2 separate regions of the Homo sapiens genome follow, and region 2 is linked to region 1. Evidence: fine-mapped expression QTL. A gene starts in region 1. The other region holds a variant in brackets. All regions are shown on one strand. Distances are from middle to middle. Region 1 holds the start of GPM6B (glycoprotein M6B). Region 2 has its middle 97 kb from the start of GEMIN8.

What was found. PIP is the estimated chance that this variant, and not a neighbour inherited with it, causes the effect.
Region 2: its variant is fine-mapped to the expression of GPM6B in sun-exposed skin (GTEx, PIP 0.96).

What each region holds. Positions count from the first base shown.
Region 1 is chrX:13,814,993-13,820,375 of GRCh38, forward strand. It overlaps GPM6B (glycoprotein M6B), which reads right to left and starts at 2,101. Exons shown (of 8, transcript NM_001001995.3): 1 at 1,852-2,101. The coding sequence starts at 1,912.
Region 2 is chrX:13,930,397-13,935,779 of GRCh38, forward strand. It overlaps a transcript of GPM6B not described here. Among named protein-coding and RNA genes, the nearest start is that of GEMIN8, 97 kb to the right of the region's middle. The variant T/C (reference allele first, on the strand shown) is at 2,340.

The DNA.
Region 1 (5,383 bases):
AATCACAACTAATGACTTTTCATATACGGGTTGTCAGGGATGTACTAGCAACCTGTAGATCTGTTATTAAATAAGATTTAATTGACATAAAATAATAGCAGTCCATAAGACTAAGTGATAAGATACACAGTTGTGTAGTAATGATTTTATATTGGTTATATGACCTTTGCTTCCTTTCAGAGAGAAATTTAAAAAAGGGATTTTTTTGCAAAGACCAAAACGGTTTTATCTGCCATGGTTGAATACCACATTAATAAAAATTAAAAGTATGTACTAAGTAAAATCATCATTTTAGGATAAAATCGTGATAGGCTTCCTTGGGACAATGCTATTACATTATCATACCCCGACAACATGCAATCAACTTAGTCTCTAGTCATCATGGAAAAAACTTTGATCTCACTTCTTCATCTTGATAAATATTCCCAAGAGCTTCTCTTATAGCTATTTGGTCATTGATGAAGATTTTTTTTTTTTAAAGACACACAAGAAAATACAGGCTGGGTTTTTGGTGGGGAGGTGTAGATTTGGTAAGAGGATTGAACTAAACAAACGATTTTAAAATTAAGGTGCTATGTACTTAATGCCACTGAATCGTATACTTAAAATGGTAAATTTTATGTTATGTGTATTGTGTGATACCTAAAAAAATTAATTTAAAAAGTAAAATTGCTCTGTTTAGGATAAAATATTATTGTGTACCAAAGAAATTTTATATAAAAACAAGCAGTCTTTACCCCAGCATACTGTGAAGCTGAAGTACATGTAATTGCCGTTTTTGTAGGTTTAAAATGGTTGACTATCAGCAATTTCATATGGTTCAGCCTGTATCTTTATAAATAAAACGAAGTTTTGTCCCCGTACTGGCGAATTACTCTTTAGTGACTATCAGTGGACGCAAGGGCTGTGAGAAATAACCTTAGCATGATGGCTTTTTATATTAGAGCCACTGCGGTTACAGAATATGTTTTTGGGCATTTATGACAGTCTATGACTTTGAGTGAGGGAAAATTACAATGCAGTGAGATCCATTAACCTAACAGTGGCTGAGCCGATTCTATGGGACATCAAACTTGAAATCAGTCATTATTTAGAAAAAAGAGATTAATTTTAGTTCCTTTCTGCCATTTTCTTACTGCAAAAACACTTTATTCTCCAAAAAACCATTCTGTATATGAAAATTGTGGTACGTTCTAAGATTCTCTTTAAGAAATAGGACCTTTATCAATTTTCTTCCCCCCAGTCTCCAAGTCATAATTAGCAGAAGATCCCCCGCCCTGCCTTTCCATCAGCACTGGGTGACAGAGCTGATGTCCCCTCTCTGAAGCTCCAACTGTAAATGATTATTACATGTCGTAGTCAGGGCCTGATACAAGAAAGAGCAATCATATTAGAATAAGAAAATTAGAGAATGCCCAAATCACTACAGCATTAGCGGAACCAAAGCAGAATTAACATGCATGCCCCTCCAGTTCCTCCTCAGCATTAGCAGAAAACTACACATTCCACGTTCCTGGAATATAACATGCAGGACACAAGACCTAAGTTACGATTAATTATATTAATAAAAAAAGACAGTTTCCCCAATGCATCAGCCCAAGGTGACAAACTATAGACATCCCTCTATGAAATATCACGTCGGTAGAAAGATTTGGAACAGGAATGGATTGAAGAAAGGCTGCTCTATTAACTTAACATCAGCCCACAGGAAAAAAATCAACCCTGAAAGCAAGACCATGCCATAGGGATTGTCTCAGAGCCATTTTAAAAGAGAGACAAAACCCAGCTAACCCTTTTTAAGCACCCCCCAGTGAAAAGCTTTAAACAGGCTATTGTCAGAGCGCTGGGTACCTTTTCTCTCTTGGCTTTGTTCAGTATTTTCCTCGGCTGCAGTTTCCATGGCTGGCTTCATACCATCCACCAAAAATGCTTTTCCCCCTGTTCCCCCCAACACACACTTGTTTTTCCTCCTCTTCCTTTTCTTTTGGACTCCCCTCCGTCTCTTATTTACACCCGTCTGATTGAGAGGCTCTGTTCTTCACTACAGTAGATTACAGTCCCTTCCAAGATGCAAAAGTCTTGTCAGCGTCAATTTCGCTCTGCCTACTGGTCCATAAAGACAGCTGCCAAGGGGCAGGCAGCCATACGTCACCGAGGATCCCAGTTAGAAAACAGCCATTCGGCGCCCGGTGGTGCCTACAGTCTCAATGCGGCTCCAGTGGGAGTTGGGGGTAGGGGGGTGGGGGAGAAGGACCTGCTCCCCACCGGGCTCTTCCTCCTTGCTCTCTTTCTTAAGATCTCAATCTCGATCTCTCTCTCTCTCTCTCTTTCTCCCCACCTCATTTCTTCTAGCCAAGTACACCCAATGAATGCTAATTAATTCTCCCAGGAAAAAATAGATTTGTGACATCAGAGGAGGGGATGTGAAGGAGAAAGAAAAGAGCCCCCTCCCACCACGTGACTTTGTTGGTCGACAGCAATATATGTCGTCTCTAAGGAGAATGCATGTCTTTGCATAGGCATGACACTTTCTTTCCTGTGTGGTCCATTTATGATGTATCAGTTTATTTCATTTACCCCTCGACCCTGGCAAAACATATTCAAAGGACGTGCCCATAGTCTCTATTTACTTTCTTAAATATTTGTCTTTCATACAATTTCTAGATAAGTACATTGCTTTTTAAAAATATAAATTAAAGAGGGGGAGAAAATACATTAGAGGGAAGAAAACTCAAACACGGATTTAACGATAGCAATGTAGCAATTTGTTATTAGAACCCACTCCCTTGTCTATAGTTAATATATATGATAGTAAGAGAAACTCAAGCCTAATTTGTAAAAAGGCACCCTTCCTTATTTAAAAATAAGCATAACATGTTCACAAGTATATCGAGCTGACATTTTGGTAGTTTCTTGGAATGAAAATCAAAATAGTTTTTTAATCGGATATGGTTATTTCTACATGGAGTTTTACTCATTAGAATTCCTCACTCCAAATCGAAGGGGTGTTTTCAAGAGCTCTCTAAATATTCAACATAAAGGCTAGTATACCAATAATGATTTGCCTTCTTGCATACCCAGATACCATGAGGCCAACATTCTCAACCCATACCAACATATAAGCCTTTATCATGATTATGAGCCATGTTTCCAAGCATCACTAATTTCTGCACCATTTTTTATGCATTTGGCTGACCAACTGGCCTTCGCCGTCCCTATAAAAAATTAGAGAGACTCAAGTCAAATACAGGGATGACCACTGATAGGATTCCCAGATCATGAATAGTCTGCTAGTTGGTTGGGCTTAACACTTATCTTGGAAGCAAACATAAAGACAAGTTGGAGACCACCCTCTCCTAAAATCACTCTCCTAAGTTTTGATGGTTTCTTGCTCAACTCCTTGAAAAAAAAGTATAAGGTACTGAATCAAAATCTTCTAAAAACCTGATCTTTTAATACCTTGGTTTTAGATAATCCCTCAAACCTTCTTATATTTAGAACTTCTAGATGTGTTACAGTCGAGAAGATTTTGAAAACCAGTTTAGCTTGTTTCAACGTTTAATTTTACATCTTGCTTTTCCCTTTACCATTGTCTTAGAAGACCACGCCCACAATCAAATATGTATTCCCTCAAATTAAGGCCCCAGCCAATTTTATTGTCTCCTGGTCAGGGGATTGAGAAGTATGGCAGCCTAAAACCACAGACTTTAGAAAAAAGATTCGTTTGTGATATAATTATTTCCATGGGAAAACCCTATGGTGTGTCCGGATAGGACAGTCTTAGACATTTTTTGCAAAGACTACTTAGGTCCATTCAAATATAGAAAGGTGGCAAGTGTTGGTATGTAACAGGCTTGCTTTCCCAGCAGTTCAAATGAGAATTAAAACCAAAACAAAATTCAATTCAGCACAAAAGAGGACACTGTGATTAGCTGTTATTGGTTTTTAAAGTGTCCAGCAAAAACATCTGATTATAGAACCAGCAGATCCTAATAATTTTTTGGCTGTTGCTTAAGAATATTATTTTAATAGTGATGCTGGTGAAAAGGCAGAATATGAAAGACATTCTTAATTTAAGAACAACTCTAGTTCTATATCGAGATCAAAACCATTAGACAAAATATTCACACATCCTCCAGTTGATACCTGCATCTACTTTCCACCTGAAAAACTACATGGAAATGAGCAATTCATCACTTTTGCCTGATTCACAACTTCATCATTTTCTTTTCACTAGGATAATGTATTACAATTCTAGAAATTACCATTATATCACTTTATAACAGCCTCAAGATCTCACTGATGTTTATGATAAACCATTTGAAAAACAATTGTCAAGAGGAAGAGAGAAGAGTATTGCTTATTACATTTCTGAGATATGCATCCATTTTTGGCCAGAAAAGTTCTATATGTAGAAGTAGGATGGAAAATGTCTTCCAGAGCTGAAAATATTTCTTTGAGCCCCATGCTCTAAGGCAGTCTGGTTGAAGGTAAGAACACTTCTGAAAGCCAAAACAGGAATACAAAATACTGAACAAAACAGATTAGAATAAACATATGAAATTGCTGATATTGACCAAGAAGAACAGCAGTTTCACGTGGTTTGACTTATATGTTTGTAAGTCTTCTGTATAATTGCAGCCAGCTCAGTAAACATGCATGAAGTAACCTCCCTAGTGCCAACATCTACAAGCAGCACAGACATGCACAAGTGACGATGCCTGTCTCCAGGTAACCCACGGCTAATGGGACACAGAAAACTCTTCTAAAACAGGGTGCTCCTGCCTGCCACAAGCACTATGGCATCACAACAAAGAAAATGGATGGAGGGGGAAGAGAATTTGAAAAAAGCTTTGCAGAGTTGAGTTGGCTATTGCAGTAATGCTTAGAAACCTGCTGGGTAGGGTAGGGAAGGGAAAAGCAGGAAAGAGGAACGGAAAGAGTTCTAGGAAAAACTGAAGGGCATATGAGAGGAAAAAGAGGGTACTGTCAAAGGGTCAGGAAGTGATTTTTCTGACAGAGGGACTGAAGGGAGATGGCTGAGCCAGTAGGTTGGGAACCAGGTAGGTTGAACACCTTGCTAGCCCTAGAGGCAGTAGGTAGAGATAGAAGGCTCAAGAGCAGAGCTGATCGTGCTTTACAAAGGTCATTCTATTGGTAACGTGGAAGACAGGGTGGGTGGAGTATGAGACTAGAGGCTGGCAAACTAGTCAGGAGTCTCCTGCAACAGTACCAGTAAGAGATAGTGTGAACCTGAACTATGGCACGGGGAGGAAGTGAGGACCCAGATGTCATTGGATTGGATCTGTATGAGTAGGGGTGGAGGAGGATTTGAAGGGGAGGCTAGAGTTTCTAGCTTGGGTGAGTGAGGAGATGGTCATGC
Region 2 (5,383 bases), 120 kb after region 1:
GAGGTCAGGAGATCGAGACCACCCTGGCTAACACGGTGAAACCCCGTCTCTACTAAAAATACAAAAAATTAGCCAGGCGTGGTTGTGGGCACCTGTAGTCCCAGCTACTCGAGAGACTGAGGCAGAAGAATGGCGTGAGCCCGGGAGGTGAAGCTTGCAGTAAGCCGAGATCGTGCCACTGCACTCCAGCCTGGGTAACAGAGCGAGACTCCGTCTCAAAAAAAAAAAAAGAAACGAACAAGGGAACATCACTACAGATACTATAGATAACAGGATTAAACAGATAATACAAAATATTATGAACAACTTTGTGCCAACAAATAACTTAGATAAAATGGACAAAGCCCTTGAAAGCCACAATTTACCAAAATTGAAACAAAGAGAAAGTCTGAATATTCCTCTGCTAAAGAAATACACTTCATAACTTAAACATTTCTACAAAGAAAACTCCAGACCCAACTGGCTTCACTGGTAAATTCTTGCAAATATTTAAGGAAAAAAAAATGGCTGGGCACAGTGGCTCACACCTTTAATCCCAGCACTTTGGGAGGCTGAGGCAGGCAGATCACCTGAAGTCAGTAGCTCAAGACCAGCCTGGCCAACATAGTGAAATCTGTATCTACTAAAAATACAAAAAATTAGCCAGGCATGGTGGTGCATACCTGTAATCCCAGTTACTTTGGAGGCTGAGACAGGAGAATCGCTTGGACCCAAGAGGCTGAGGTTGCAGTGAGCTGAGATCACACCACTGCACTTCAGCCTGGGTGACAGAACTAGACTGTCTCAAAAAAACAAAAACAAAACAACAACAACAACAAATCCCACTTTTAAAATTAATAATCCATCATGCCTGTAATCCCAGCACTTTGGGAGGCCAAGGCGGGCGGATCACAAGGTCAGGCTATCATGGTGAAACCCCATCTCTACTAAAAATACAAAAAATTAGCCGGGCATGGTGGTGGGCGCCTGTAGTCCCAGCTACTCCGGAGGCTGAGGCGAGAGAATGGCGTGAACCCAGGAGGCAGAGCTTGCAGTGAGCCGAGATCGCACCACTGCACTCCAGCCTGGGCTACAGAGTGAGACTCCTTCTCAAAAAAAAAAGAAAAAAGAAAAAAAGAAAAATAAATAAATAAAATTAATAATCGAGTAAATAAATAGACATGGAAGTTGGTTCTGTTCCAATCCTCAACCCCTCTGTAGTCATGCCAAAGATCACCCCAATATCTTTCCATCCCAGAAAGCTAATACTTCCCTTCCTTCTCAAAAGGGATGAAACAATGGACTTACAAAAAAACATTTTTGTAAGATTCATTTATATGTGTCCATTTGTAATCAACTAAAATTCATTACTCCCATCTGGCTTTCAGTTCCCTGACCAAATCGTATTTCCTACTCTCTCCCATACCTACTCTCTGCTATGGCCAGGTCAGTTTCTTCAGAATTGCCCCAACAAACCTTGCTCACTCCTACCTCTCTTTCATGGGTTATCCTAATCCCTTCCACCCTTCTCAACACTCCTCAAATCTAAGTCACCACTGGAAACTTCATATAAGCCACAAGGTTTTACCTTTATCAGAACTTCTAAACTTTTATCTGGAATTTTATAGTTAGACACAAACGATTCTCTCAGTGGGTTTCTTTTATCCCCTTGGGGAGACTGTCATTTCCCTCCAGCTGCCATGTGCCTGCTTAAAATCCCTTCCTGATTCTCTGTGACCAACAGGGTAATGACCAAGTTATTTCCTGGTACTTTACAATCTGGCCTCAGCTCTCCCCACTCCCCCACATTGAGGCCATTCCCAACTCAACATACCCACACAGCAGCCTCTGCCACGGCTCCTGCTTTTACACATTTGTATCCAGGGCCTGGACCATCCTCTCCCAGACACCTGGACACCCTGACCCCTATCTTCCTGCTCATGCTTGAAGACTCTCAGATTTAAAGTAACTGCCTCCCTAGGGAATCCCTCTTTGAAATACCACCTCCCCGCTTTTTTCCTCAGACAGATACTCTTTTTCCTACAGGATCTTGTACTTTTATTATAGTTGTTTATCTGCCTTTCAGAAATGACTGTGGTTATTTGAGAACAGAGTCTTGTTTATTTTTTGCTTCAAGACTTAGCACAGTACTTGGCTCATCTGAACAGGACTCTGTGAATGCTTGCTGAGTGAGCAGCTGTCCAATACTCCCCTGAGAGCCCCATGGTGATGGACATGTGACAGGAATTCAAAGGCTTAGAGACTGGCACATGCTAGTTGCATGATATTGTGGTAGGTACTCATTTAACCCTAATACACATGGTGAGGATGGAAACACAAAGCTGCCATTGCCTTTTAAT[T/C]CTCAGGGCAATAATGAGTTTCAGGGAAACAAAGCCTTCAACCCCAATCTTTCCAGAACTTCAAAAACCTGATGAGAAGGAAGTACTTTTCACCAGAGAAAGAAAAGTATTTTATAGCAGCAGAAGAAAAAAAGCTCAAGGCAAAAAAAAAGCTAATGAAAGAACATCCAAACTGCTCTTTCAATTGTTTCTGTGTCTGTATGCCTGGCAGCAATCAAATTACTTCTAAAGCAACTTCAAGCTCTGAAATTGTTATTCTGTGATAAAAGTATTATTATTAAAGAACAATAATTTACGTAATTTACCCTATTTTAGCATAGTTTACCAGAGTTTGCAGTACATCAATGTTAATTTAAATACCTTGAAATCTATAATTTTAATGTTGACAGACCTTAATAAAATGCATATGAATCCTCATTTTTAAACAAATATTTGTGTAACACCTATAATATGCCAATCATTCCAATGAACATTGGGGTATAACAATGAATAAAACGATTTCTGCTCTTGACAAATTTGGTATTTGAACAGAAAGAAGCATATGAAAAACACTAACAAGCCAGCCATCATGTTAAAATTATTAAATGGATGATGATGGCTCAAAATATAGCAGATGCTCTCTTACCAATGTTTACCTAAAGGACCCCACCCATTTACCCCATATCCTCCATTCTTTTTCTAAACCATACTGATCATTGTCCAGAACTTGGGTTGTAGGCTCTTTTGCAATATATGTATGTACTGCTTCTCCCCCAAGTAGTGTACTTAAGAAGAGTCAGTGGTGTTTGTTCCCAAACCTGTTTATGCCAGTTGTACTTGTTACTAGAATTATGAAACTTAATTCGATATTACATAAACTAATAAAATAGGAGTGCCAAACGAGAGAGTTTTTTCCTTTCTTTGAAAACCAGGTTGATTACTTTGGAGAGTCTTAACAAAAATGAGTCACTTGAGAAAATAGTTGCAAAAGTAAGTACGGGCAAATTTAAAGGTTTAAGGGGAGTGGGGTAGGTGATATAAAGGGATTCTGCCCAGAGATTGGTTCCCAATGCCTTTAGGTTTTCATTCTACTTTAATGTAAGAATCTGAAGCTGAAAATCAGAAGCCAATGAATTTTGGCTGTGATTTAATGTAAGAAAGACTTCTAGGAACTCCAATCAGGTCCTTGCACTCAAAGCAAAGGCCTTGACTCTACAATAAAATATCAGCAAATTAATGTTTAAAGTTAAACAAAATGTTTAGGCTACATAAGTGGCACGTTTTATGATTGATCCCTTTGGCATTTTCAATAAACCATCCAGCTGCTTGGTCCTGGATGTAGCAGATAAGGGTTTTCTCGGAGAAGCCAGGTGGTTTGGTCAACAGCTTTCGGTAGAGCAAAAATATAATAAAGAATTAATGACTTCCTGTTTGTCACAAACAGTACTCCGTGGTATTCGACTATGAGGTTTACTCAAAATGTCGGTTTGTGTCCCGATATTAAAAGGGAGCTCTCTCCAAGATCCAAGGGTGGGCTCCTTACTAGATCTTTAGACTCAGAGGGAGGGAAGCTAGCATATTCTGGGATCACTTCCTGCCCAGTTATTCAGCAGGATTCCATTCCTTTTTGTCTCCCACTGCATCTGAATTCCTGAGCAAGCTTCCAGAACCAAGCATTGCATGTATGGGTCTTCAGCGTGCTTCTTTCTGAGTGCAGCCTCTGAGGGTGGCTTGAGCCTGGATGTCGGGGAAGAAAGGGATTTAAGGAAAAGAGGTCAGGAGAAGCCAAAGCTGGAAGTGTTAAAGAGGGAGAACATTATAGCTTCCTCCACCAGTTCCCTTGGAGAAGAGCCAATCATACTGGAAGCATGCACATCGAAGATGCCAGCATTTAACCCAACTACAGGTGACACTTCTGATGCTGGCTTCATGCATTCAAGTAGTGTTTAGACCATCAGGGAGCTGTTTTCTCGTGGTTTTCAAGCATAACATTACTCTCTCATTTCTTTTTTTCTAAATTACATATTGGTTGACCTGTAAAGACCCAAAGAAATAATTTCATCAAATTCTTTTATTTTATAGTCAACTAAAATTATGAAGAGAAAATGATTTACCCACGATCACACAGCAAACTAGTGGGCAAGCTGGGGCAGGCACCAGGGCCTCTCTGCTTAACAGCCTTCTTTGCTTCCTGGCTCCAGGAACCAGAAGCATGAGCACCCACTGGGAGCTTGTTACAAATGCAGAAACTCAGGCCCCACCCAGGCCCACTGAATCAGACACTGCTTTTTTAACAAGATCGCTAGATGATCTGTACACATATTAAAAAGAACTGCTCTAGACCAAAATTTTTTATAATGCTATTTAGTGAAATTATTGACATTTAAATACATAATCCTTATAAAAACTTCCTTACCACAAAATGGGTTGAAACAATTATTTCAATATTTTGTTGTATCTGATCATTTCGTATACAGTTTCCATTTAAAATGATAGGCAATTGGCCACTCACAGTGGCTCACGCCTGTAATCCCAGCACTTTGGGAAGCAGAGGAGGGAGGATCACTTGAGGCCAGGAGTTTGAGACCAGTTTGGGCACCATAGAAATACCCTATCTCTACAAAAAAAAAAAAAAAAAAAAAACTGTAAAGCTTAATCGGGCATGGTGACACATGCCTGTAGTCCCAGCTACTTGGGAGGCTGAGGTGGGACGACTGCTTCAGCCCAGGAGTTCCAGGCCACAGTGAGTTATTACATCAGGCCACTGCAGTACAGCATGGACAGAGTGAGACCCTGTCTCCAAAAGATAAATAAATAAAAATAAAACAATTATAGGCAAAGAAACAAAATCCGCATTTCTCTCTGGATACATAAGCCATATTAAAGCAGCTTGGATATTCCACAAATGCCTTATAAGAGGTTATTACATGGAATTCACTTAATTGCTATGCCTTCAGGCCTATGAACAAGGTAACAGAATCAAAATTCTGTTGGGCAATGCAAGTTCCTATCAGATAAAACCAGAGTTAACACTGAAGGGTGTGTGTGTCTGTGTGCTGTGTGTG